4 separate regions of the Homo sapiens genome follow, and regions 2, 3 and 4 are each linked to region 1. Evidence: fine-mapped expression QTL. A gene starts in region 1. Each other region holds a variant in brackets. All regions are shown on one strand. Distances are between the middles of the regions. Region 1 holds the start of EPHA4 (EPH receptor A4). Region 2 overlaps EPHA4 (EPH receptor A4). Region 3 has its middle 340 kb from the start of EPHA4. Region 4 overlaps EPHA4 (EPH receptor A4).

The links. PIP is the estimated chance that this variant, and not a neighbour inherited with it, causes the effect.
Region 2: its variant is the best candidate, but not a certain one, in a credible set for the expression of EPHA4 in whole blood (TOPMed, PIP 0.77).
Region 3: its variant is the best candidate, but not a certain one, in a credible set for the expression of EPHA4 in tibial artery (GTEx, PIP 0.60).
Region 4: its variant is the best candidate, but not a certain one, in a credible set for the expression of EPHA4 in fibroblasts (GTEx, PIP 0.83).

Annotation. Positions count from the first base shown.
Region 1 is chr2:221,569,694-221,577,611 of GRCh38, reverse strand. EPHA4 (EPH receptor A4) reads left to right here and starts at 5,308. Exons shown (of 18, transcript NM_004438.5): 1 at 5,308-5,454. The coding sequence starts at 5,364. RefSeq lists an enhancer at 627-1,139 and silencers at 3,843-4,002, 4,053-4,332, 4,933-5,352.
Region 2 is chr2:221,491,748-221,496,747 of GRCh38, reverse strand. The region is part of intron 4 of EPHA4 (EPH receptor A4); the gene reads left to right. Among named protein-coding and RNA genes, the nearest start is that of EPHA4, 78 kb to the left of the region's middle. The variant A/G (reference allele first, on the strand shown) is at 2,426.
Region 3 is chr2:221,224,000-221,231,917 of GRCh38, reverse strand. No RefSeq gene overlaps it. Among named protein-coding and RNA genes, the nearest start is that of EPHA4, 340 kb to the left of the region's middle. The variant T/C (reference allele first, on the strand shown) is at 3,528.
Region 4 is chr2:221,499,628-221,504,627 of GRCh38, reverse strand. EPHA4 (EPH receptor A4) reads left to right here. Exons shown (of 18, transcript NM_004438.5): 4 at 3,456-3,611. Among named protein-coding and RNA genes, the nearest start is that of EPHA4, 70 kb to the left of the region's middle. The variant C/T (reference allele first, on the strand shown) is at 2,893.

The DNA of each region.
Region 1 (7,918 bases):
ATGACTAGGAAGAAATCTCTTTATTTATTGTTTTTTTTTGAGACGGAGTCTCACTCTGTCGCTAGGTTGGAGGGCGGTGGCTCGATCTTGGCTCACTGCAATCTCCGCCTCCCGAGTTCAAGCGATTCTCCTGCCTCAGCCTCCCAAGTAGCTGGGATTACAGGCGCCCGCCACCTTGCCCAGCTAATTTTTGTATTTTTAGTAGAGACGGGGTCTCACCATGTTGGCCAGGATGGTCTTGATCTCCTGACCTCTTCCTCATGTGGGATTTGGTACATTGTAGACACTGAAGAAATGTTTGTTAGAACCGAGTAAAATTCACGGACGGCATCAAATGAAGTTTTAGAAAAGCCTTGCTCCCTTGAGAACTGCAACCTTCCTGTCTGCCCCTCCTCACCTCAGTGATGCAAAAGAGATTATTATTCTAAGTGAAGTAACTCAGGAATGGAACACCAAACATCCTAAGTTCTCACTGATATGTGGGAACTAAGCTATGAGGATGCAAAGGCATAAGAATAATACAGTGGACTTTGGGGACTTGGGGGGAAGATGGGAGGGGGCAAAGGATAAAAGACAACAAATACGGTGCAATGTATACTGCTCGGGTGATGGGGGCACCACGATCTCACAAATCTCCACTGAAGAACTTACTCATGTAGCTAAATACCACCTATACCCCAACAACTTATTAAAAAAATGAAACAAACAAACAAAAAAAGGCCTCTTGCTTTGTCTTGCTCTCTCATCCTCTTGATGCATGAAGACCTGAGCTCTGCAGCCATTTTTTTTCCCACTCAGGTGTAAAGGGCTCATAAGTGTCCTGCTTCTTATTTGCATAACAAACAGCATCAAAGCCTTGACATCAAAGGATGAACTCTGCAGTTAGGTTTCCTGGGGGCTTCCGGAAGCCCACCAATTGTTGTGTCAAATTTGTATATTTAAGATGCAGTAGCTTGTGGTAGAAGCGTTTTCTAACAACGGTGGGAATTTCATTAGGTAGAGCTTTGGTTATTCATTACCACTTGGTTGTGGGACTCTGGATTCCTCACACCTTCTTTCACGTATTTTTTACACTATTCTATTTGAAGACAAGCATAGCCTCTAGGTCCAAATCCAGTGGAATTACCTAGGAATATAAAAGTTGGATGTCAGCTGTCATAAATCAACAATAAAAGAAGAGAAGAATTTAGAATTTATTTCCCTTCCCTACTCTAGGAGTTAATAAAATAAAGCATCTTATTTTCTCATGGAGCACGAAAGGTAAATCACAGTGCTTGGTTTCCTTCTGGAAGGAACAATTCAAGCTGAACAAATGATTTCTCATTTCAAAATGTGAATGCTTATTAATTAAATATTATTTTACAGAAACAATAGCCAGGCATGGTGGCTCATGACTATAATCCCAGCATTTTAGGAGGATGAGGCAGGAGGATTGCTTGAGCCCAGGATTTTGAGACCAGCCTGGGCAACATGGTGAAACCCCATCTTTACTAAAAATACAAAAAATTAGCCAGGTGTGGTGGCACACATCTGTAGTTCTAGGTATCCAGGAGGCTGAGGTGAGAGTATCACGTGAGCCTGGGGAGGGTGAGGCTGTGGTGAGCCATGATCACACCACTGCAATCCAGCCTGGGTGACCTGAGTGAGACCCTGTCTCATAAAATAAAAATAAAAATAAAAATGAGTAATAACAGCTGGCTAACACACGCCAGGTACTATACCAGAAGCTCTATAACATTCATTCAGTATTTAGAAGAACCATATAATGTTAACTATCTACAATTTGTAGATGAGAAAACCATATCTCAGAGAGGTCAAGGAACTTAAAGACACACAGCTAGAAAAAGCCCAGCTAAAGTATCAAATTGGGGTTGTCTGAATTGAAAGTTCTGGTTCTCTAAAAGAGAACTCAGGGAGTCATTGGAGCACTATGGGCAGGTTCCATTTTTTTCACAAAAAATCCACCAGGATGCCTAGAAAAAGCAGAGTGGATTCATCTTCTTATTCTCTCTGTCTCTCCAGTCTTTCATACACCCTCCTTATCATTATTTGTCTACGGGTCAAAGGCTCCTTTCTCTTTACTTTGGTGAAATTGGCCCTCCACATACAGGTGGAAACCCCGGGATGCTTGGTGCTATTTACAAACGTCTTTTACGGATTAAAAACACCTTTGGAATTCAATCTTAATTCAATTCAGCATTTACAAGGTACTTCGTAGCTCAAACGTTTGTGGTAGGCACTGTATAAAAAAAAGTATATCATTGTTTTCAGATTATTCAATTACTATTTTCATTAAGTGTGTAAGCAGATATGTTTTGACATGTTTCTTAGTGTATTCAAAATAACCCCAAATTTTTACTGTAGTAAGACTTGTCTTACTCAAGAGTAAAGCAATTTTATTTTAAAATTAGGTGATTTTAGGTACTTTTTTAAAGGTATGATATTCCATTGTATCCTTATGACTCCGTTGATGTGTTGTAAACAGTCTCCAACATTTGAAAACTCCAGGTTGTCTTCCCATAATGTGGGTGGTTTTCTGCATTGATGGTGGCCTTTGTCCACCATCATTTTTAAAATTTTGCCTTACTCTTCAAGGAATCATATCTGCTAGGTTAGAACACCTTTGTTCTAGGTAGTCACAATGGACAGAGGAATTTTCAGCAGCTCATTTCTGTTCTGCAACCCAGAAATGATTTAAAGAGGAAGTTATAGTTCAGTTTTTCCAAGTTAGCATTTCCTGCTTCTTGGTTCTCCTGATTATCGGGCTGCCTTGGGTCCTGAACTAAAACATAGGAAGAAAAAAGGGAAAGTCAGTGAATGTACTCTAGCAAATGATGCCTTGCTTTCAGGCAGCTGTGTCTGGAAAGACTTTGTTTAATATTCAATGTGCATATCCTGGGGAAAAAAATGGTACATGTTTTAGAAATTTTACTGTTTATAACAATGCAGGCAGTCAGTTTCCCGTTTCAAACACAGATAGATACATGCAACACTCAAGATCCTGCAGAGAGGCAGCCAGCATCTATTGTTTAAAAAGGTTTCAAAAAGAATTCGGATTGCTCTTTTCTCTTTTGAATCTGTGTGCCAAATGACAGGGACCAATATTCGTCTTCTTTTTCTGTAAAACTCAGAAAGACACATGAAAGAACCCAGAAATGCATTTCTTAAAGGGATTTAGTGCAGTTATTTTAAATAATTTATGCACGCACACACACATACATATATCCCCCGAGTACATATTTTTTCCCTTTTTACTTGTGTGCAATCAGTAGCTACAATGACTGAAATCCACTTCTTTGGACTGTGACATTTAAGCAAATCTTGTATCTAGAAACCGAAATGCCCAGAGTCTCGCACAAGCTGTTCGTCTGGGCCACCAACTCACACAGCCGCCGCCCAGCGCCTCGGCACGCGTGCTCATCTTGTGTAAAAGTAAAAGTTGCTCATGTCATTAGCTCGGCTCTGAGTTTGCATGAGAAACCAGCGCAGCTCTCGAGCCACGGGAGAAAACACGATCTGCTGCGGAGCCCAGTGACCTGAAACTGTAGCAGTGACTCGAGACCTGTCCTCTCCTCGACGTCGCCCTATAACCCTCCCGCTTTATTTAGGATCCGCTTTTCCGAGAGCAGCCACTCAGGCAACCCCCGGAAGGTTTGTTAGGAGTTTCTCCTTGAAACGCTTTCCGATTCCATCTTTTGAAATCCAGCAGGCGAGAGTCACGACAGACTCCAGGACCTCTTGAGCGCTGTCCGCAGCCCCACGGTAGGAGTAGCCCTAGTGCACGAGACTTGGCGGTGGCTGAAAAGCTCGCCCAAACGCACGCACCACCTCTCTGCGGGGTTGCGGATTGCGGGTTGCGGTCTTTGTCCGCTCGCCCTTCCTCCGGGGCCGCACACTCCCGCATCTGGCCGGCAGGTGGCGCGGTTGGCTCACGATGAGCTGCGGCCGGGGCTGGAGAGGCTCCTCCACCTCCCAGCGGCCGCCCGGCCGCCGGGACCCAGGCTCCCCAGGAAAACTCGGCCCTGCTCTGGAGGGAGTCAGAGGAGGGGCGGCCTGGGAAGGGGAAGGGAGGCCTCATTGCTAGGAATCAGTGCCCCTGCCAGCGCCTGGGGAAATGCACCGAGTGGCGTTGGGGACCGGTCCCTGGGACACCGGCTGCGCTGCCTTCGCCGGACCGCTCTTAGGTGGCCGCGTCCACGGCTCGGGCATCGGGAAAAGACCACAGCCCGATGGTGCCAGTGCCCCCGGGGCCGGAGCAGCCGGGCGGGGCTCTGCGGGTCCTCCTGCTCGCCGTCTTCTCCCGGGGCAGGGAGGGCTGCCCCGGCTAGGTCGGAGCGGAGAGTCGCAGCAGCCGCTCCGGGCAGCTTCCCAGTCCCGGTCTGCCTTGTCTGTGCGGCTGCAAGTCCCCGCACCCACACTTAAGCCTTTCACTTCTACCCCACCGCTCCCAGACGGGCTAGGCCCGGTTCCAGGGACTGCCCCCAACCCTGCCCCCGGGAAATCCACAACTGGTTCCCTGCCCAAGGCCATCTCGGGGCGTCCTGGGCCCTGGGCGAGGTCCACGGCGTGTGCAGGGGGACGGGGCCAGCGGGGACTTCCTTACTGCTAGAAAGTCATTCGTTCAGTCTCTGGAGACAGTGACGGAGCCCTGCTGCGGACTGGACGTTGGGGACCAAGTAGGTCCCCGCTCTCCAGGCATCTGGGGAGCCAGGGAAGAAGCGAGTGATAGAGCCACAAAACTCCCCGCAAAGAGTATTTCAGAGGGGGAAGCGCCATAAAGACAAAACAGGGCAAGGTGGCAGAGGGTGGCGGTGGCAGGCGCGAGTCTGCAGCTCAGCCCGGGCGCGCTGGACGCAGACACGTCGACTCTCCTAAAGAAGCAACCGCAGGTCAGCTTAGACTTCTTTTATTTCAATAAAAGAGCGTTTTCCTCCATCTTAAACCGCCCGTGGTGGGAGAAAAGGTTTCCAACCTCTTCTCTGGCTCCCCTCGGTCAATTCCGAGCTTTTCCAAAGTCCCTCCGCCGTCCAGGGGCTCGACCTTCGAGGTAACGTGGGGGATCCCGCTGGCTCCCTCCGGCAGGCGGGGGCGGGGACCGGCCGTGCTCGCCCCCTAGAGCCCCGGGAGACCGCGCGCCCCGTGGAGCCCGGAGGGGGCGGAACCCTGGGGCGGGCCCTGCTCGGTGAAGGCGGGGCTCGGCCGCCCTGTCTGCGCCGCCATTGGCCGCGGGCCCCGGACTGGCGGGCTCACGTCACCGGCCGGGCCCGCCCCCTTGGCAATGTCTTCAGCCCGCTGCTCTCCTAACTTAAGCATTTATTCCACTGGGATAGAAGCGGCAGGAGCAGCGTTGGCACCGGCGAACCATGGCTGGGATTTTCTATTTCGCCCTATTTTCGTGTCTCTTCGGGATTTGCGACGCTGTCACAGGTTCCAGGGTATACCCCGCGAATGAAGGTAAGAGCGGGACGGCCTTTCTGTGGTCGGGGACAGCGAGGGGCCATCGCGGGTGAGGGGTCCTCAGGAGCGCAGGGCCAGGTGGTGCGGGGGGAGCCCAGTGTGAATGGTGCGTCCCGATTCGGGAGAAGGGGGCTGAGGCGAGGGGATCGGCGAAGGGGCAGCGGGGAACCGCCGGACAGCCTGCCCCGAGGCGGTGACCCGTGCACGCGGCGGGTCTGTCCAAGTTTGTAACCAAAGGCCAAAGTTTATCAGCATCCGCCAGAGAGGCCCGCTCGAGGCGCCCTGAGGGGATGCACGGGAGACAACGCCGGGATTTAAAAAAAAAATTACAAGAACCACGTCCTCTCCTGAGCCAGCCCGGGGCGAGGGGAAAACGCAGCCTGGAGCACAGTGAAGGCTTGGTGCTCCCGGATTCTAGCGAAAGCCTTTCGAGCTCTGGTTTCTGCAAAGTTTCCCGAGCCCTGCGCTTCTCGGGACCGGGCTGCGGGGCCTGCTCCGCAGCGCAGCGGTCGTGGCGCCGCTCGTCAGGCGCCAGTGACCTGATTTCTAGCACCCGGAGTCAGACACCTTTCTCCTCGCCAAGCCCAGCGCCCCGAGGGTGCGATTGCGGGCCTGAGGGGCCCGAGCTCTTCGCCCCGCAGACTTGGGGAACCCGCCGGCAAGTTGAACGCAGTCGAGTTTTAGCTTTTCGCCCCAGAATTGCACACAGTTTAGAGCTAACGTGCGGGGTCGACGGGACCCGTCTGGGTGCTCAGTTTTCTGTGCATCCGTTCGGACGTGCTGGGAGGATTGTATGTGCCTGTGTGTCTGTGTCGGGAGGTGGGGCGGGGCGGGGGGGCGGTGATCATTTAGTTTCTGAGAAACCCAGGGAGAGGCGAACTGTGTGTGTGTGTGTGTGTATGTGTGGTGTGTGTGTGCATGTCTGCGTGTGTGTGCATGTCTGCATGTGTGGTGTGTGTGCATGTCTGCGTGTGTGTGCATGTCTGCGTGTGTGTGCCTGTGTGTGTGCGCGCGCGTGCAACTGCGTGTATGTAGGTGCGCGAATGCCTGCGTGGAAGCGGACGCGGAGGATTGTATGTCTGTGCGCAGATGTCCTGAGTGTGTGCGCGTGTGTTCGAGTGTATGCTCGTGCTCTGTTCCAGCGTATGCTGGTGCTCTGGCCTGCGTGCATCTAGTCTCACATCCGTCTCTCATTCTTCTCCTTTCCGGCATCCATCTATCTATCCGTCCGTCCATCCGTCTATCTATCCATCCATGCATCCATCCATCTCTCCGTGCATCCGTCCGTCCGTCCATGCATCCATCCATAATGCATCCATCCATATATCTGTCCGTCCGTCCGTCCATCCATCCCTCCATCCATCCACCCATTCATCTATCCATCCATCCACCCATCCATCCATCCATTCATCTTTCCATCTCTCCAGACATCCGTCCATCCATCCCTGTGTAATCTATCGTTTTCTCTGTTCCGAAGGAGGGAGCCAAAAACCAACTTAGCCTTGGCTGGGCAGCCGGTACCCGGAGCCCTCCAGACGGAGGCTCTGAGAGATTTATACACCTGCCCACAGACATCGCTTGGGAGGAAAGGGGCCCTCTCTCGCCCTCTGGATCTCCCATCTCCTTCCGACGTGGCTTCTGGTGGTTCTGGTGCCATCTCGGCCGTCGCCGCCCCTCGGTCCCTAGGGTTATTCATTCCCCTGAGAGGAATCGTGGATCCCGCGTTCTCCTGGCCACTTCACACACTTGTTAGGACGTCCCCTGAGACCTCTCTCGCCCCAGATGTAGAGACTGTTTTCTTTCTTTTTTTTAAACCCCCTCTTTTTTTGGGGGGGGGGGAGAAAAACTTGGGAGCCCAAGACAAAAAGGCTCTGAGAGCCCTAGGCTAATGTTGAAGGGGAGGGAGGGAGGTCTGTTCCCCTCCCCTCCCCCACCTCCCCCTTAAAAATTAATTCACTTTGTTGCTTTCTATTCCCATCACGTTTCCTTTTCTCTCTTTTACCCTCCCTTTCTACTCCCTCCTTTTTTTGTAAATTGGGTCTTATTGTTTCCTTTGTGTCCCTAATCCACCTTACATAAATCCAAATGGATGTAGCGGGCTTTTCTCTAGGGACAGAGAGAAGAGAATGGTTGCGGTGGGGGTTGGCGGTGGGGAGAGGAGAGGAGGGAAGGGGGCGGGAACTCCAGGCGGGAGCGACCCAGGGAAGGCTCTACATTTTAAAATCATTAACAGACCCCAGGAATTCAGACTCCCCGGGAAAAGTAGGGGAAAGAGACTGATTTTTAACTCCATTGACTTTGAGGTGAAATGAGAGGGAAAGTGGGCAGAATCCAGGGGTCTGGGGGTAAGCTTGAGTGTTGGGGTGCGCATGAGCACGGATGGCGGCTTCCCATTCCCACCCCTCCCCCAGCCTGAAGAGCCAGCCTGGCTGATCAAATTAATAACCCAGTGGTTCCTTTG
Region 2 (5,000 bases), 79 kb after region 1:
TTAGTAGAGATAGGGTTTCACCATGTTGGCCAGGCTGGTCTTGAATTCCGGACCTCAGGTGATCCACCCACCTCGGCCTCCCAAAGTGCTGGGATTACAGGCATGAGCCACCACACCCGGCCAACAGAACTAAACTTGTAAGTATTTTTTTAAACTTAAACATTAACTGCATAAGCCTCTGAAGACTTCCTCTGAGATAGGGATAATCAGGGAAGTGACTATACTTTGCTGATAATAGATATAGTCGTAAGTCAGGCAGCAGAACTGGATTCTAATTCTTAGCCTATGGCTCTTCCTTTCGACATCTCCCTTCCTAGTGAATATAATGGACCTGTATTGTCTAGTACTGTAGACACTTGACACGTGGCTATTTAACCTTAAAGTCATTAAATTGAAATTTAGGTTCTTATTTAAACTTGGCACATTTTGAGTGCTCAATAGCCATATATGGCTAGTGGAGACTATACCGGACGGCAGACCCAGAGAACGTTTCTATCACCACAGAAAGTTCTATTGGACAATACTGTAGTAGACGTTCCAACAGAGAAGACAGTAGGAGTTTCTCAAAGAACCTCTTGTTCAGATGATCCACAGAGTAACTCTCCCCACTCGCACGCTGCCCCCAGCTTTATCGGATTCTCTTGACAAGATGTGGGGATGGGAAGCAGCATAAACATCAGGGGTCCTTTCAAACTGATTCCAGCCTCTAATCAGTTCTTCCCAGTTGGTTAAGCCAGGTGACAAACCCAATTCCCTTGTGCTGACAGCCATGATAATCAGGCACCTTCTTTGTTCATTATGCTGTCTTTAACCCCAGCATTCTTATGCAGCCTCGCATTTAGTGATCGCTCACTGTGACGGCACACTAATGAAGAAATAAAACACACTATCTGAGCCTCATTCTTCTAGCCAAAGAGAGACTGTGCTCCACTGGCTTGTAAAATCAGGTTTTTGTTCACTTGGAGAACAATTAGACCAGGTGAATAAAAGTAGCATTGGCTAATTTAGAAGGAAACTGCCTAGGAAGTTTGCACCATTGACGCTGCTGGAGAGCTTAAGAGAATTTAATCGTAAACAAACTTTACCTTTGGGAATACTTTTGCTGGAGCCTCTGGTTAGGTTAACATAAATGGCTGCCTGTGAGATGTGCTGAGATGTTTCTATGGAAGCACCATCGGAACATTTTCTGGAAAATAGCCCATAACTATTTAGAACAGGGAGTTTAGAACAGAGCTTTTTAAACATCCACATGCACAAAAATCACATGGAAATCACCTGCGGATTAGGAGGAGCGAGGTTAGGCCTGAGAGTCTGTTTCTGACAAGTTCCCAGGTGAGGCTGAAGCTACTGATCTGTAAAACCGTCTTTAGGCAGCAAGGATTTAGATTCCCAGCCCCACGGCTGTCAGGAGACAGGAGATTCTGTTTTGATGCCTGTAACTTTCAGACCTGTTCTTCAGCTCAGTGGTGACTCTAGAAAGGTATTTCATGGATTCTGATCATTCTCCCTTCATGGAAATGGAATACTTCATCTGTCTCCTGTATGAAGAAAATCCAGCCTGGGTAGAATCATACAACCAAATGCACTCACTGTGGAATTATTTTTCTTTTTAATTTTGCTGTTGTTTGTTTGTTTCTTCCAGAATCCTCACCAAGTTATTGCCAGAGAGTAGAAATGTAAATGTTCACCTTAGACACCTGTATCAGTCAAGAGAGGCAAGAAGTTTTTTTTTTTTTTTTTTTTTTTGGCAACATTGCCAGGACAAGCACCATTATTTCTGCACATTCAGGGCTGCCATTAAAGCTGATGTCAGGATTTTGATTTTATGAATCTTTTCTTAACAGGGATTTTGATGTGATTTTTATTAATGAAATTAAAGTCCTTTAACTCTACGAATGACTAGCTCTTTCCCTTCTCCAGATCTGTTTCTCCTTGTTTCCCTGCCCCTTCTGGAATGCAGTCTGGTTATCAGCAGGACTGGGCGTGGTCAACCTCACACCCCTGCAGGAAGACTTCTGATGGTCTTAGTCATGTACTTGCTTGTTCAATGATTGTAGTGAGCAAGATCTTCTTTTCCCCCACTGGGAAGCTAAATCAATGTTATATTTAAAGTAACTTTCTTTTTTTGTTTTCCCTTTTTTGAGATAGAGTCTCACTGTGTTGCCCAGGCTGGAGTACAGTGGCGCTATCTCAGCTCACTGTAACTGCCACCTCCCGAGTTAAAACAATTCTCCTGCCTCAGCCTCCCAAGTAGCTGGGATTTACAGACATGCACCACCATGCCCAGCTAATATTTTTGTATTTTTAGTAGAGCCTGGGTTTCGCTATGTTGACCAGGCTGGTCTCGAACTCCTGACCTCAAGCGATCCGCCCGCCTAGGCCTCCCAGAGTGCTGGGATTACAGGCGTGAGTCACTGCACCCGGC[A/G]TTAAGGTAACTTTCTTTTCCAACCCCTTATTGTATTTCAAAATGTGCTAGAAAAGTACCTTGTAAAGGTAGTAAATTGGCTTTGCATATCTAGAAAAATGTAGCTCATCTGTCATTTTGCCACCTTGACTTCTGAGCACTGTTACCAGAGTAGTTTTTCGTATTTTTCAATTGGAAATCTGTCCCTGTGCTTTTGGGTGCTCTTTATTTAACTTGTTTGATGAAACTTCTTAGAGCCTGGTGATTGGGAACACTCTGTAAATGAGAGATTATTATTTTAGATTGCCAACTTGAAGGGCCTTTACGAATCTGTCTCCAAGTAAACAGCCTCGAATGTGCCAAACAAACAAAGAGTGATTGATTGATACTTAGACGTGGCCGAAAATATTCCAAAATTGCAGCTTTCAAGACATTTTATACTAGGAGAGCTCAGAGCTAATGAGGGCAGATTTCCTAAGATCTATGACCAGAGGTCCTGATTTGAAAAAACTTTCTCCAGGTTTACGTTATCAAGAAATTGAAACAGCCAAGTTCCAAACAACAAACATCACTTACTTTGTCTCTACATTTGCCTTTTCTAATTGAATTTAGTGCGCTGCTGTATTTCCTCCCAGAAAGTGTATTGTTTTAAAATTACCATTTCAGTTCTATTACTCAAAGCCCTCGCTGCTAATGCTTTCTGACAGTTATCAACATAATGAGCCATAATGAAATGATGAGCAATCTTCGGTGGAAACCCAATGTCGATTCGACCGGTGCTGTGTGACTGTGTTGTGAAAATTTGAATGCAAATTAAAATAACATCGTCCTTACTTGTTTCCAAGGTCAGGAGAAGGGAGGGACTCTTTTCCTTTTTTATTTTTTTATTTTTTATTTTTTTAAGGGCTTTAATTTTGGGAATCTCACATCCATTTTCAAACAAGCTCTTGAAGGTGCCCCTGTTATTCTGTTCAATTCTCTACCCCAAAGATTTACATGCTTAGCAGTCTGGCTAAGGGATTTGGGGAGGGATGTCTAGAGCGAGGCTTTGATGTATAAACCATAGGATAAAATGCAGCCTTCAGTTTCAAGTAAACTATATATTTTTTTATCTACCCGAAAGCATATTTCTTTTTGCTTTAGAGCTGCAAGTAACTAATCATATAATGATGGGGGAGGCATACATTCTGTGAAATAGGTCAGTGAGGGTGCAGTTAGCTCTAGTGAAAGACTAGTTAGAAAAGTGAGAACAAAGGCCAAAGATTCCCAAAGTGTCGTAAATGAAAGTGTTTCAGAAGATTCATTGGTTGATCTCTAGCCATTTTATCATTCATGCAATCAATCATTTTCGTGAACATATTTTTATGAAAAATCTCAAATCCAAGTTTTCCAGGGGAATTTCTCATTCCATGTCATTTATCAAATTTGCAATGTAATAGTATAGTTTCATACTGCATTCCATTTGTCATAGGACAAAAACTCAGATTGAGACACCAACTCCTCCACTGCCAGATTACATAGTTGGTTTTTAGTTCAGAACATATGGTCCTGCTGCCTGTTAGTTGGTAAGCCAGCTAATGTGTCTGTCCCATGGACTGTACAAACTGATCAAAGCAACCAAAGACATTTGGACGATTCAGATGCAGCCGTCAACGTATGCTGCTGCTTCAGTTAGAGCTTAGTAGTTCAACATCTGATGTTAGCTAGTGAGTATACCACATTTTTGTTTCTTCCTTTCGGATTGCCTTTCAGCATTTTAGCTACTAAAAGGAAAAAGTACCTCTAGACAACCAAGTGGATGGTTTTTGTTTGAAGAAAATTAAAGATAAAGGGAGAAAGATCACCAGGTGAGCTTCAACGAAGGCACTAGATAGACCCCAGACTGATCATTTGCCATTTGGTTGTTTGCAAAATTTTAAGAGCCTCATGATATTTCATAAAGATCAGGTATCATCTCACTGAATTCTTTTTAAAAAAATGCTGTTTTAGCTTCCTCTTTTTTTTCCCCACATACTCCCCATTTTATAGTCATAAACAGCCCATTATGGATTCCACTGGAAAATGCAAAGATTCGAGGGACACTAATATATGCCCAAGTGGAAGGCTTGAATAATCTGCCAATGCCATTTAGCCAGGTTATTACAATTTTTCTACCACCCTGAATAATTAAGAGTGGCTTGTCATTGACCGAGTCCTGTCATTTCTGGATGCCATTTTTGACACTATGCATGGAAGTCATACAGTGGTTATTCACAGCATGCTTCTATGAAACAAGGTTAATTACACATTTTTCTGAGATCCCCTGGGGTGAGAACGGGGTATCTTCTTTTTTTCTTTTTTTAAGACAGAGTCTCACTCTGTCTCCCAGTGGTGCAATCTCAGCTCACTGCAACTTCCACCTCCCAGCTCAAGCAGTTCTCCCACCTCAGCCTCCCAGGGTGCTAGGATTACAGAAACGAGCCACCACACTCAGCCCAGGGTATCTTCTTTGCTATCAACATTTAGATTTATGAGAGATTCTGCTATAGAGATATAATTGCCCCTCGCCCTATTCCTATGATCTTCCACCTAGAAAAAGAACCTTTAATAGAAACTC
Region 3 (7,918 bases), 350 kb after region 1:
GTTGTTTTGAAAAGTAAAGTTCCATTGGATGTAGGAGTGAATTGAAAATAAAACAAAAGAAAAACTGGGACATGTCATACACTTCGTGTTTTACAGAGAAGGTAGAAGTTGAATGTCGTAGCCCTGCTAGTGGGAAGGAAGAATGCTGGCCTCTTAGCTGCAGCCATGGGCTTCAAAAGCCAGACTGAAATTCACCCTTATTTTAATCAGGTTGACTGTCAACGCATGCAGATTTATCTATGCCTGGCAACAGAAAGTAATGCATTCCAAATACTTGCTAGTGAATAGTCTTAAGCTTGTAGCCACTCAGTAGTTACCTACATACTAAATCAATATTCAAAGATTTCTGGATTTAGATATTAAAATTATAACTTAACCAGATCAGTAGAAAGCACATTTGGTTGGTCTCTTGCAAAATTGCTGTTCTTAAATTCTATTTTAGTGGCATGCTATCAAGTTATATGAAAAGTCATGATCAAAACAGGCCTATTAAGTTCATTGTTACATTTTTGTTAAGGGTATTCTTGACTATGTGGCATTCTTTTATCTTTATGATTTATTAGAGTAAAATCCTTGGACAATCTTCATATCAAGAATGTGTGTAAGCCACCTGGAAAATGATTCTTTTTTATCTTAGGGATGCAATGAATTATGTACCCTAGATTTTCCCTTCAGTTGGCAGATAAAAAATCAAGGGCTAAGTCTGTGATGCTTCCATAGCACACACATCAGTTGTATGGTTTCGCCTATGTACTTGTCTCATTTTGATCTCATGCTTATTTTATTTTATTTTTATAAATTCATATTTCTTTATTAGAATATCTGTAACTTTTTTTTATTTTTCATAATTTCAACTTTTATTTTAGATTCCAGGGGTACATATGCAGCTTTGTTACGTGGGTATACTGCATGATGCTGAGGTTTGGGATATGAATGATCCTGTCACCCAGATAGTGAGCATAGTACCCAAGAGTTAGTTTTTCAACCCTTGCTCCTTTCTCTTCCTCCCCTCTAATAGTCCTCAGTGTCTGTTGTTGCTATCTTTATGCCCATGGGTACTCAATGTTTAGCTTCCCATTTATAAGTGAGAATATGAGAAATTTGGTTTTCTGTTTCTGCATTAACTCACTCAGTAATGGCTTCCAGCTGCATACATGTTGCTACAAAGGACATGATTTTGTTCTTTTTTATGTCTGTGTAGTATTCCATGTGTACATACACCATATTTTATTTATCAAATCTGCCTTTGATGGGCACCTAGGTTGATTTCATGTCTTTGCTATTGTGAGTAGTGTTGTGATGAACATACAAGTGCGTGCGTCTTTTTGGCAGAACAATTTATTTTCTTTTGGATATATATCCAGTAATGGGATTGCTGTGTTGAAAGGTAGTTCTGAGTTCTTTGAGAAATCTCCAAACTGCTTCCCACAGTAGCTGACCTAATTAATATTCTCACCAATAGTCTATAAGCATGTAACTATTTCTTTTAAGTCATAATTTTTGAATATGTACTTAAAAGCTGACAACATTTCACCATGCTTAGGTTTGGTAAATACACAAGAGAAGTGCTGCAACTTTCCAGTCTAGTGCCCAAGGCAGACATCATTAATCAATAATGGTTCTCATTCCCTTGAAGGCTGGTCACCACTTTAGATTCCTTTTCAATCCATGTTTCATGTATTCACTACCAATTGATTAAAAGTGGCTTTCAGCATGAAACCTATTTGCCCTCTCTGCCTTAGAGGTTTTTTCCATGTAATTTAAAAAATATATTTCTTCTCGGCTATAACTTAGGTAAAATTGGCTTCTAGTATCCTTAATGTGAAATATAACCTTTACCTCTATTTAAAATCAGTAAAATAAAATGGTACCATATAGCAATAGTATGCATAATTAAAAATAACTTAAGTAAATAATAATCTTTCATAATAAGTTGATTTTTAAGAGTGAAAAAATAAGTTTCTCATTTTCTTTGGATCACTGACATTGAAGAAGTAGAGTAGTAGGGCTATACCTTTACTCTGAACTACTCTGGCTCTTGAAGATCCTGGAAACCTTTGTTTAGGTGTGACTTATCTCAGCCATGTTTTATCTCAGCCATGTTTTATGTAAGGAAAATGATTTCCATATGTCTCCACTACTTCACAGCCAAAACATTTGTGCACAGGTTGGGTGAATGCTTCCCATAGGGTGCATTCCCTTCATTTCAAGTCATGAATAGAGAGGCTTTGGATTGCAGAAAAGAATTTGACAGTTTTCATATTGTGCACACATGCACACATGCATGCGTGCACACACACATGAACACACACACACTTCTCTTTTTCTTTCAGGGATTTAAAATGATGTTGGGTTTATTAACCTGTTATATACCTTTAATTAAAATGCCACTATCAGGATTAATGAGTAGATTTAAATCAGTATTGTATCACAGACAACATAGAGTTTAAAGGGAAAATGGCTCTAACATTATATGAAATTTATTTTAGTGTGTTTCTTAGAAAACCTCAGTGGTCCAAATATGTTGCTTTGCTTTCCTGTATTTTCAACTCCCCACAGTAATGCCCCACACCCAAGCCAAGCAATTTTTAAAATTAAGAACATATTTTATTAATAGCTCAAATACAGGAAGAATACAGCAGCCCTTCCTGGTGATGTAACTGAACCTGATGATTTGAATTAAGAATATGCTAACATCTGGTAGTACCAAAAACATGCCCTATTAGAAATAGAACATACTCATCTCTGAATTAATATTCATGCTTTCTATATATTTTTTAGGAATAAGAAGTCTATTCCTCCAACAGAAATCTACATAATTTAAAAAAGTATTTGGCTTTAAATCTTTGTTCAAGTGTACTTTACCAGAAGTGACAGTCGTACCGAATAGGGTCTGGAGTCTTGAGTGTCAGACTGGAGGTGAAAATAGAAAATCTCTTTTCCTGGCTTTATAGAAAGAAGCATGTTCCTAACAGATCAGAAGCAAAGTGATGTGTATTTTTTATTATCATAGGATCTGGGATAAAGTACAATAGATAAATACTTAGATGAAAAGTTAAATGGAGGCAGGAACCTTAAACAGGCCCTTGAATAATGTGTTGTTATTAAGGCGTTGTCAGACTTTGAGAGGAATTAAATTATATTGTGGCAATTTGAAATGTTTACCTTTACATGCACATACCAAAAAAAGAAAAAGGAAAATGAAAAAGAAAACAATATACCACATTTCTTTTATTTCAGTTTTCAAGAAAGCCTTCAGCAGTTTTTTACATGATAAATACAAAAAGACAACCTAATAACAGCTTGCTTTGTTCTAAAATTAGGAAAGGAAAAAGGTGGAAATGAGCATGTTGCATAGTTCTTAGAAAAAGGACAATTTGTTTTTAGAACTGAACGTTACAGAAAATTTTTTGTCCGGAGCATGGAAAATTACTAAAAAGGTTATAGAAGTTATTCCTAAAGTGGCTTCCAGCACCATTGTGCCAATGTTTAATTTTATCTCTCCCCCAACCCCCTCCAGCAAGTGT[T/C]CTTAAAGGAAAAGGGATTTTCTATTTTGAGTCCCTCAAGAACAAACATATCGTAACAGTTTTCTTTCCAGAGAATGTTCCCTGTGCTTCTGTTCTTTACCTTTTCATCCCAGAAAACTGCCATGCCTACCTAAGGCAGGAATCAGTGCCAGTCTCCTCATCCTGTCTCCAGCTAAGAGTGCACCTCCCTGTTAAATGATTAAATAGGTCAATATTCACTTGTATAGCAGAACTTACTTTTGGTAACTTTTAAAGTTTTATATGATATCAAAATTTATTTCAGGAAAAAGAGCAAGAATAGGTTAAGGAGCTCTTGTATATTCTTTACCAGTTGTTTATATTTTTCTTTATTATGTCTCTATTGCTCCTTCTCTCTCTCTTTCTCTAGACACACACATACACACACACACACACAGAGTATATTATTTTTGGAAACATTTGGAAGTCAGTTAAAGACATTGTACTTCCAGTTCCAAACTAACTCTACAGGGTTTTGCTGTTTTCCACATTTGTGACTTTCTTCTCTAGTGGTAAAAACCCTGGCTTAAATTATCTTTAATATAAATATTCATTTGCTCAGGTCTAGAATACATGGAAAGCAGTTTTAGAATTGTGAATAACTGCAAAACCTAAACTTACCAGTGAGAGTTTAATATTTGTTTTCAGTTCTATCAAGGGATAATTCACATACAGTGGAATACAAAAATCTTAAGTATGTAATTTGATGAGTTTTGACAAATTCACGCATTCATTTATCCACATGCCCACCAAAATGTAGAACTTTTCATAAACTTGCTCTTTGCCAATTAATCCTCATCCCAAAGCAAATTAACCCAAAGTATATAGAATAAATGAAAGCAAATTAACCCAAAGTATGTAGAATATTGAAATAATAAAGGTAATACTAGAGAACAATAAAACAGAAAAATGGAGAAATAGAGAAAAACTAATATTTGAACATTTGAACAAATCAAATTTGTTCAAATCAAATTAAACAAAACTAATATTTGAATATTTGAACAAATCAATAAAATTGATAAACCCTTAGCTAGACTGATAATTACTAGAAATAGATGAGGATGTGTGAATATGAATCTTTTAGATAGTAAAAAATAACAAGGAAATATGAATAATTTCATGTGATTTGTCAATTTAGATGAAATGGACACATTCCTAGAAAAATACAAATTAAGAACACTGACACGAAAAGAAATAGAAAATCATACTAGCCCTATATCTGTTCAGAAAGTTGAATTTATAATTACCCCCTATAAATAAATCCCTATTATTTAATGGTGAACTGAAACCTTTAAGAAAGAAAAACCACAAATTCTACATAAACTTATTTTTCAGGAAATAGATGAGAAAAATGTTCTTATTTCATCTTATTAGGCCAACAAAACTCTAATACCAAAGCCAGACAGACATTACAATTAAAGAAAATCTGTAGCCTAATGTCCCTTAGAATACTAATTAAATCCATCAATATATTAAAAAAATAGTCTGGACACAGTGGCTCACACCAATAATCTCAGCAGTTTAGGAGGCCAAGAAAGGAGGATCACTTAAGACCAGTAAGACAAGGCTGCAGTGAGCAATGATTGTGCCACTGCACTCCAGCATGGGCAACAGCAAGAAAAGATGCTGTCTCTTGAAAAAATTTTTAAAAAAGAATAGATAATAATATCAAGTGAAACATTAAAAAATTACTGCAATTTATTAAGATTTTTAAAAATCTTATCTCAACAGATGCAGAAAAAACATTTAATAATATTTGCCGATTTATGACTTAAAGCCCCAACAAACTAGGAATTCGTGATAAAGGGCATCTATGGAAAACCTACAGATAGCATTGTATTTGATGTTAAAATATTGGACCCTTTCTCAATAAGGTTATGAACAAGGCAAGATTTTTCACTTTCCAAACCTTTATTATAAAGCTGGCAAAAGTAATTTATGGTAATAGAAATCAGAAAAGGTTTTGCTGGAGAAATGGTTAGGACTGTCTAAGAAGAGGCACTAGAAAACTTTGGTTGGGGTATGTATTGCTAAGATGTATTCTTTATAATCTGTGTATCTTGATGTATGTAATTTATATTTCAATGATGATCTAAATTCAGTCTCCAGATATCTATTAAACAATTCAGCTTTTGAGTTTTTACTTTTTATTTTGATATTTTACATGTTCCATATTTCTTATTGTGACAGACAAAATTCTATAACCCCTAATGACCTACATGTTGTATAATCTGCTCCCTTGAGTATGGGTAGAAACATAACTTGCCTGTAACTGAATATTGCAAAGATGATGGGATATGACTCCATGATTGTTACATTATAGAGTAAAGATGAAGGAATTTTGCAGATGTAATTAAGTCCCCTAATCAATTAACTTTAAGTTAATCAAAAGAAGATTTTCCTGGGTGGGCATGACCTAATCAGGTGAGCTCTTTAAAACAGGATCAAGAGGGCAAAGACTCTCTCCAAGCTGTCCTTGAAGAGGAAATCTGCCTTGGGTACAATGAAATAAATTCTGCCACCAATAATGTGAGTTTGAAAAGAGAATCCTGAGCTCCAGATAAGATGCAGGCCAGGTGCGGTGACTCACACCTGTAGTCTCAGCACTTTGGGAGGCCGAGGCAGGCAGATCACTTGAGGTCAGGAGTTCAAGACCAGCCTGGCCACAATGGTGAAATCCCTTATCTCTACCAAAAATACAAAAATTAGCCCGGCACAGTGGTATGTGCCTGTAATCCCAGCTACTCGGGAGGCTGAGGCAAGGGAATTTCTTGAACCCGGGAGGTGGAGGTTGCGATGAGCCGAGATAGCGGCACTGCACTCCACCCTGGGTGATGATGCGAGACTCTATCTAAAAAAAAAAAAAAAAAAAAAAAAAAAAATCTAAACCTAGGAGACACCTTGAATGCACCTTGTGAAGTCTTGAGCAAAGGGTCCAGCTGAGCTGTACCTGGACTCCTGACTCATGGGGAACATGTGATAACAAATATATGTTGTTTTAACATTCTAAATTTGTGGTCATTTTGTGCTCAGCAGTATGAAATAAATGCACTAAATATTGCTTTAAACATTTTTATAAATGTGATAGCTTCTTGGATATTTCTCTTTCCCATTATTGTTTTCCCCCATAGAAGATGGATTTTCTCCTTAATAAATTTTGTATCTATCTCTCATGTAGTTGATTTCCTTCATTTCTTGTTAGGTTGAGTTATAATTTTATCTTGTCTTTGATTCATCTGGATCACTGTTAGTGGATGTAGATTTTATTTTCAATACCATGCCTTTGCTTAAGTTGTTACAGAAGAAGAGAAGCAGAGTGCAGGACAAGATTCTGTTCTGCACATAGGGACTTCTATTTCCGCTAGTAAATTACCTGGGCCACATTCTTAAGGCCTGCTCAGTGGGGTTCTTATATCTGGACCCCATTTCAGGGATTAGTGCTCAGAGTATGCTGAATTGGCTACCGCCCTTCTATCTTCAGGCTGGGCTATGCTGTCTAGAATCAACACCCGTTTTAGGTACCCTCTCCAAATATACTGTCCACTATTTTTTTTTAAAGATAGTATTACCTTAATGTCTAAGTAGAGAGAAAATACTACTGTTTCATGGTACATAGTGTAGGCAGAGGAAGGGTAAGTTCTTTAATTTCTTCCTTTGATAATTGTTGAATGTGTTTGGCCTGCTCTTGGTATGTATTTCTCTCAATTTGAGTTATCTCAGGAATTTCTGGAAGAGCTCTCTCCTCTTGAACATGTTTCAGTTTGTGGTTCCTCTTGATGAAGACTTCTGCTTCATCAGTACAAGTCTACCAGCTTCTATTCTCAGGAATTCCTTATACTCTCTGTCACAATAAATGACATTCTGTCTTGTTTTCAAGCATTAATATGGACATATATATCTTCTTTTTCCATTTTGTAAGATTTGATGAAGCAGGGAAGTGCTTTTATTGTTTCTTGTTATATTCCCATGTTCGAGGTGGTCAGATAATTTTACAGATGAGAAAATGAGATTGAAAGATGGCCACAGGATTTACCCAAGGTCACCCATCTGGCAAACTGTATGGACTGGATCTGAGCTTAAATCATCTAACTCTTAATGCAGTGTTTTCTTGCCTCTCATTAGGACCTAAATTATAAATGTTAACGTGATGGAACTTCTCAATATAGTCAAGAGCATTTATTGTCTACTTACATATTAAAGAAAATTACTTTGGAATTCTGGGAAGCCACATATTGAATCATTCTTCAGTGACTCTGAAACTAGCAATGTTTATTTTACTATCACATAATTTAGAGTGTGGCATGTATTTTTGTTTTCTTCCATAGTTTCATATTTTTTCATATACACACAATTCATTCACACACACACTCTTA
Region 4 (5,000 bases), 72 kb after region 1:
TAAAGACAATCAGATACTATCAATTATTCTACATTTCTTAAAAAGCAGAAAAATGACATAGCCATATATATATATATATATATATATAAAATTTTCAAATAGTAGGTGTAATCAGCTCATTAAATTGGGCATTATACTGTCACGTACACACATCAATGCATCAAAAATCCAGAAGATACTACGTTACCAAGACTATCTTAAAATTCGACTTTGTTATGGTAGTGGGTGAGCCAATGAAAGAAGAGTTGGTTCTTCTTTTTCCTCCTCCTCCTTCTCCTCCTCCATCTTTTTTTATTCAAAGCCAGCAGAAAGAGATAATTAAAGCAAAGCTAAAGGAATTGAATGCAAAGTTTGCATCATACGTGTGAACTAATCTTTTCTCCATGGCATATCTAGAAGATCAAGTAAGACACCCATTCAGATGGTTCATTAACTAGTGAAACTTCGGTGGAAATAGGGCAGGAGGAAGTAGTTTCTTGCTCACAAAGTCATTAGTATTCAAAAATACAGCATAGCAGTTCTCACCTAAAATAGAAGGATAAAAAATACTAACAGTCAATGCTTGTTATGCCAAGTACATCTTTCACAGGGGTTTTGTTTAGAATAAAAGAGATAGTGAAAGTTTTCAGATGCTAGTAAGTAGTGAATAAATGCAGAATGTACTTACACATTTATGTACCAAATGCTGGAAGGCTGTGCACCACATAGAGCAAAGAAATGTACTAAACCATCAATTTACTAGGTCATTTTAAATGTAGGCAGCAAAATGGCTATGTGCGTGAAAAGCCACTACTATATTTTGAGAGAGCCTTTCTAAGAATCCTGAAATATTAATAACATGGTCTTAATGTAGTTGGAGACAAAAGAAGGTGTTAAGGGTAGCAAGGCTGCCGAGAATAGCACAATGACAATTTTGTATTTTCTGCCTGTGTTTTATAAAAGCAAAAGGAAAAGAGTGTCTGTTTAAAGAACAGCAGCCTTCAATTTTCCAAACTGGTATAAAATTGGTATTTCCCAAATGAATTCACATATATTTATTCCTGGTGACATATTAATACCAGCTTCGAGGAAAAATAGGAAAAAATGTAAACTTGCAAATGCACTTTTTTCTTAAATTCACATAATATATAAAACAGGTTTTTGCACTGTAAGAAATTTAATGAAATTGAAGGCAACATTTTCCATTTTGATTTTTGCAAAAGATGAGTTTAATTTTTTAGCTGGAAGTAGTCTTATCAGAATAGCTTTTCAAATATGCCATTTGGACTTTGTGATGATCAGTCACTGGACAGTTTCTTGTCCTTGTCGATCTTCCACTCCCACTGTGAGTTTTTCGTTTTTGATGCTTGTTGAAATTGAGGGGTGCATGAGAATCAGTCAGTAATATGCAGTTTTCTGCAAACATTCAGATGTGAAAAAAATGAAAGCATTTTGTGCCTTCTTTGCAGTCCTGAGTTGCCACAAGTTGCTTTTGTCGACTGCGACTGACTGAGTGACAGGCGGGACCCAGTGGGTTTGTGTTCCTGTTCAGAGGCTCATTGTGTTTGATGTGAGAAAGCTGGGCTTGACCCCCAGTCCTTCTTCCTGCTAAAGTCAGGGTTTCTGATTTTAATCAAAACCCTAGGGCCATCTTAAGCATGACCAAAAAAGCACCTTGCAAGTTGAACCTTATCTAATTATGCAATGTGTATAAACTTGAGACACATAAATCTCAGTCATTGGAGCAACTTGTTTTTCTAAGATGCTCCGGTCCAGTGAAAGACGAAAGCAAATAAGGGAGAGATTGATCTCCCAGCACTTTTATTGTCAGTGCTCCACACGTCATAAAGTTTTGGCTTGTTAAAGGAAATTCCATAAACAACTTCAGTTAGTAAGAGTGAAGTAACTGTGTGCCTTCCTGAGCCCCTGCTAAATTCCCTTTCCGCTTGCCATTACAAGAGTATGATTAAGAAAATGCCAACAGGATATGCGAGTGGGTGGAACAGACTTCAGCTGGAAGCCATACAGATGCTTGATGGATGAGTAGTGACAGTGAGATGATGGCCCTATCTCCAGAGAGAATCAAGCAGTTTCATGGATCTCTTTCTAGTACTCATTTCAGTAAGATCTGCTGCGTTGCTGCATGGTTGTTCCGTTTTGGCTGCCAGGCTGATGGAAAATGGCTGATAGGTCCTTCTCCCCACTGCTGTTTCTGATAGTATAGACAAGTCCTAAGGACATGATGAATGAAAAGAAACGAGAGTGAATCATGCTGGAAAGATTGTGGGTTACTGGCACATTTTCTTTGAACCTCTGGTGTTATGAAATAACTTTACTCTTAATGGCCTTGTCTCTGTGGGTTTAATGCTGATGGTGTTGGTCAATTTTTATCTGGGGTTGAGACAGATTTGAGAGGCGATCATGAAAGGCCATGGGGGAAGGAAAAAGAGTGGGGAGCAAGTAGTCATTATTTTTTATTATGAGTTTTCCCAGAATTAGTGAGTTTTTCCACACTACTAAAAGTGGTCCTTAGTGTCAGTATGATGACAGTGTCAGTGTGATGTTTATGAAGATGAAGTCATGGAAAGGATGTCAGGTGTATAAAAAACTATATGGCCCGTGTTCTCTACACCAGGCTCTCGGGAGGTGTGTGCATTGCAGGGGAAGGGTGCTGGAAAAATGGAAAGAGGGAAAAACAGGAGGGTTTTATGAACTTGAAAATAGACACAAAATATTCGCTGATCAAAAAACAAATCTTAGCATACTATATTCCAAAATCTCCAGTTGATAGTTTTTGTTATTTCACCCTGAAACTGTGACCCGTGCCTTACAAGCTCGTCTTTTTTACTTGCTTGCCTTTGTTGATCTTTCGATTTGGTTCTTTCTGTAGTTGTAATTGGGAAATAATCACCA[C/T]CCGGTTTTTTTGTCAGCACTTGGATACACTTCCCACTGGTTGGCTAAAGGCTACACTCTGAAATTCCATAGCATGTGACTAAGCATACAGGCTTTGAGGGCAGAACACTTGGGGTCAAAGCTGGGTGCTGACACTTAGCAGATGTATGGTCTTGTGCCCTCAATTAACTGCTCAAAGCTGAAATTCCTCACTTCTAAGGTAGAGATAATGCCTGTCGAAAAGGGGTGCTGTAAGAATTAAGCAGCATAATGTGTATAAAGGGTATCTGGCACATAGAAAGGCGTTCGGTAAACTTTGCTGTGCTTTTCCTTGATTCTGCCAGGTTTAAGAAAATTTCTTCCTTTGGACTTCTTGACACCTGACCAGGAATGTTAATGGCCCTTAAAGAGCGACTATACTCAATGAATGCTTTTGGTTGCATGACCTGCATTTCAAGCCACATGATCGCTAATGATTAGCAAGAACGTCTCCCTTCTTCTGAAACAAGGAGGTGGCTTTGCATTTTTGCTTTGGTCTATTTGCAGTGGTTTCTATTTGTTTGTTTTTTTCTTCTTCCCTGCAGCTTGCAAAATTGGATATTACAAGGCTCTCTCCACGGATGCCACCTGTGCCAAGTGCCCACCCCACAGCTACTCTGTCTGGGAAGGAGCCACCTCGTGCACCTGTGACCGAGGCTTTTTCAGAGCTGACAACGATGCTGCCTCTATGCCCTGCACCCGTAAGTTGTATGCTTGTCTCTCATTCCTGTGATGCCAACAGCTTTCATTACCACCTAGCAAGGCACTGCCAGGTCTTCTCCTGGGATAATCATTCAGGGGGCACTTGAGATCAAACATTCATCCTTTCTCAATCATAGCAGGGGAAATGCTTGTAAAAAGAAAGGGTCTTTCCCACTGCTTCTGGTTGCCTTCAGTGTGCACAGCTGCCTACAGACTACTTGGTGGAGAAGAGATTGAGTGTTCAGAGGTTGTCTGACAGTGTAATTAGAGCTGAGATTGGAATTTATTAGTGGCTTTGCCATTGCACTGAGGACTCAGGGAAGCTTGACAACTGGCAGGAGAAACAGGTAGACGGCAGGGTTTGGGAATGTGGTTTCAGTCTGTAAAGGACAGCTCAGTGTGCACTGAGATCATTGCTTAGGTTGTCATTACACCTCTTCCTTCTCTACTCATAGTTTTGTGTTCATAAGACTTAGGCCCCAATCCTAATAAATGCTTGTTTAATGATTGCATTTAATAAATGCTGGGTTAATGAATGGATGAGGCTGGGAAGCTTGGTATGAAGAGCAGGAGTGAAGAAATATTTTCTCACACTTTATATGGACAGTGTTCCTAGGTGTTACCATTCCTTTCATGTACACTTGGGCCTTCACAGACCCTACAATGGCTGTGACCTTGATCGGAATGGGGAGCACTGGGCCCATGAATTTCCATTAGGTGAATCTGTGCTTGGAGGGCTAGCCTCATGGCTCAGGTCAGACACCTTCCACAGATTTTGAGTTTGTTTCCCAGCCTGTTGTGTAGCTGGGTGGCTGTTGAGTCTCTTCAGTCTGTTTCCTCACCTGGAGAATGGAGTTAATAACAGTGCCTCCTAATGGTTGTTGGTATTAAACAGCCTCATGTTGTTTATGTGCTATGTACATCGCATAGGATGATGCCATTTCATATATTTTAGCTTTGGCCGGGAGCGGTGGCTCACGCCTGTAATCCCAGCACTTTGGGAGGCTGAGGTGGACGGATCACCTGAGGTCAGGAGTTCGAGACTAGCCTGGTCAACATGGTGAAACCCCGTCTCTACTAAAAATACAAAAATTAGCTGGCATGGTGGGTGGTGCCTATAATCCCAGCTGCTTGGGAGGCTGAGGCTGGAGAATCACTTGAACCCAGGAGGCAGAGGTTGCAGAGAGGCGAGATCGCACCATTACATTCCAGCCTGGGTGACAATAGCAAAACTCTGTCTCAAAAAAAAAAAAAAAAAATATATATATATATATATATATATATATATATATATATATATTAGTTTTAGTTATCATTATGACTATTATTATTTTGTTTCCTAACTACTATAAATGGTATTTTGGCCAATCTGGAGCTAACAACCCTGC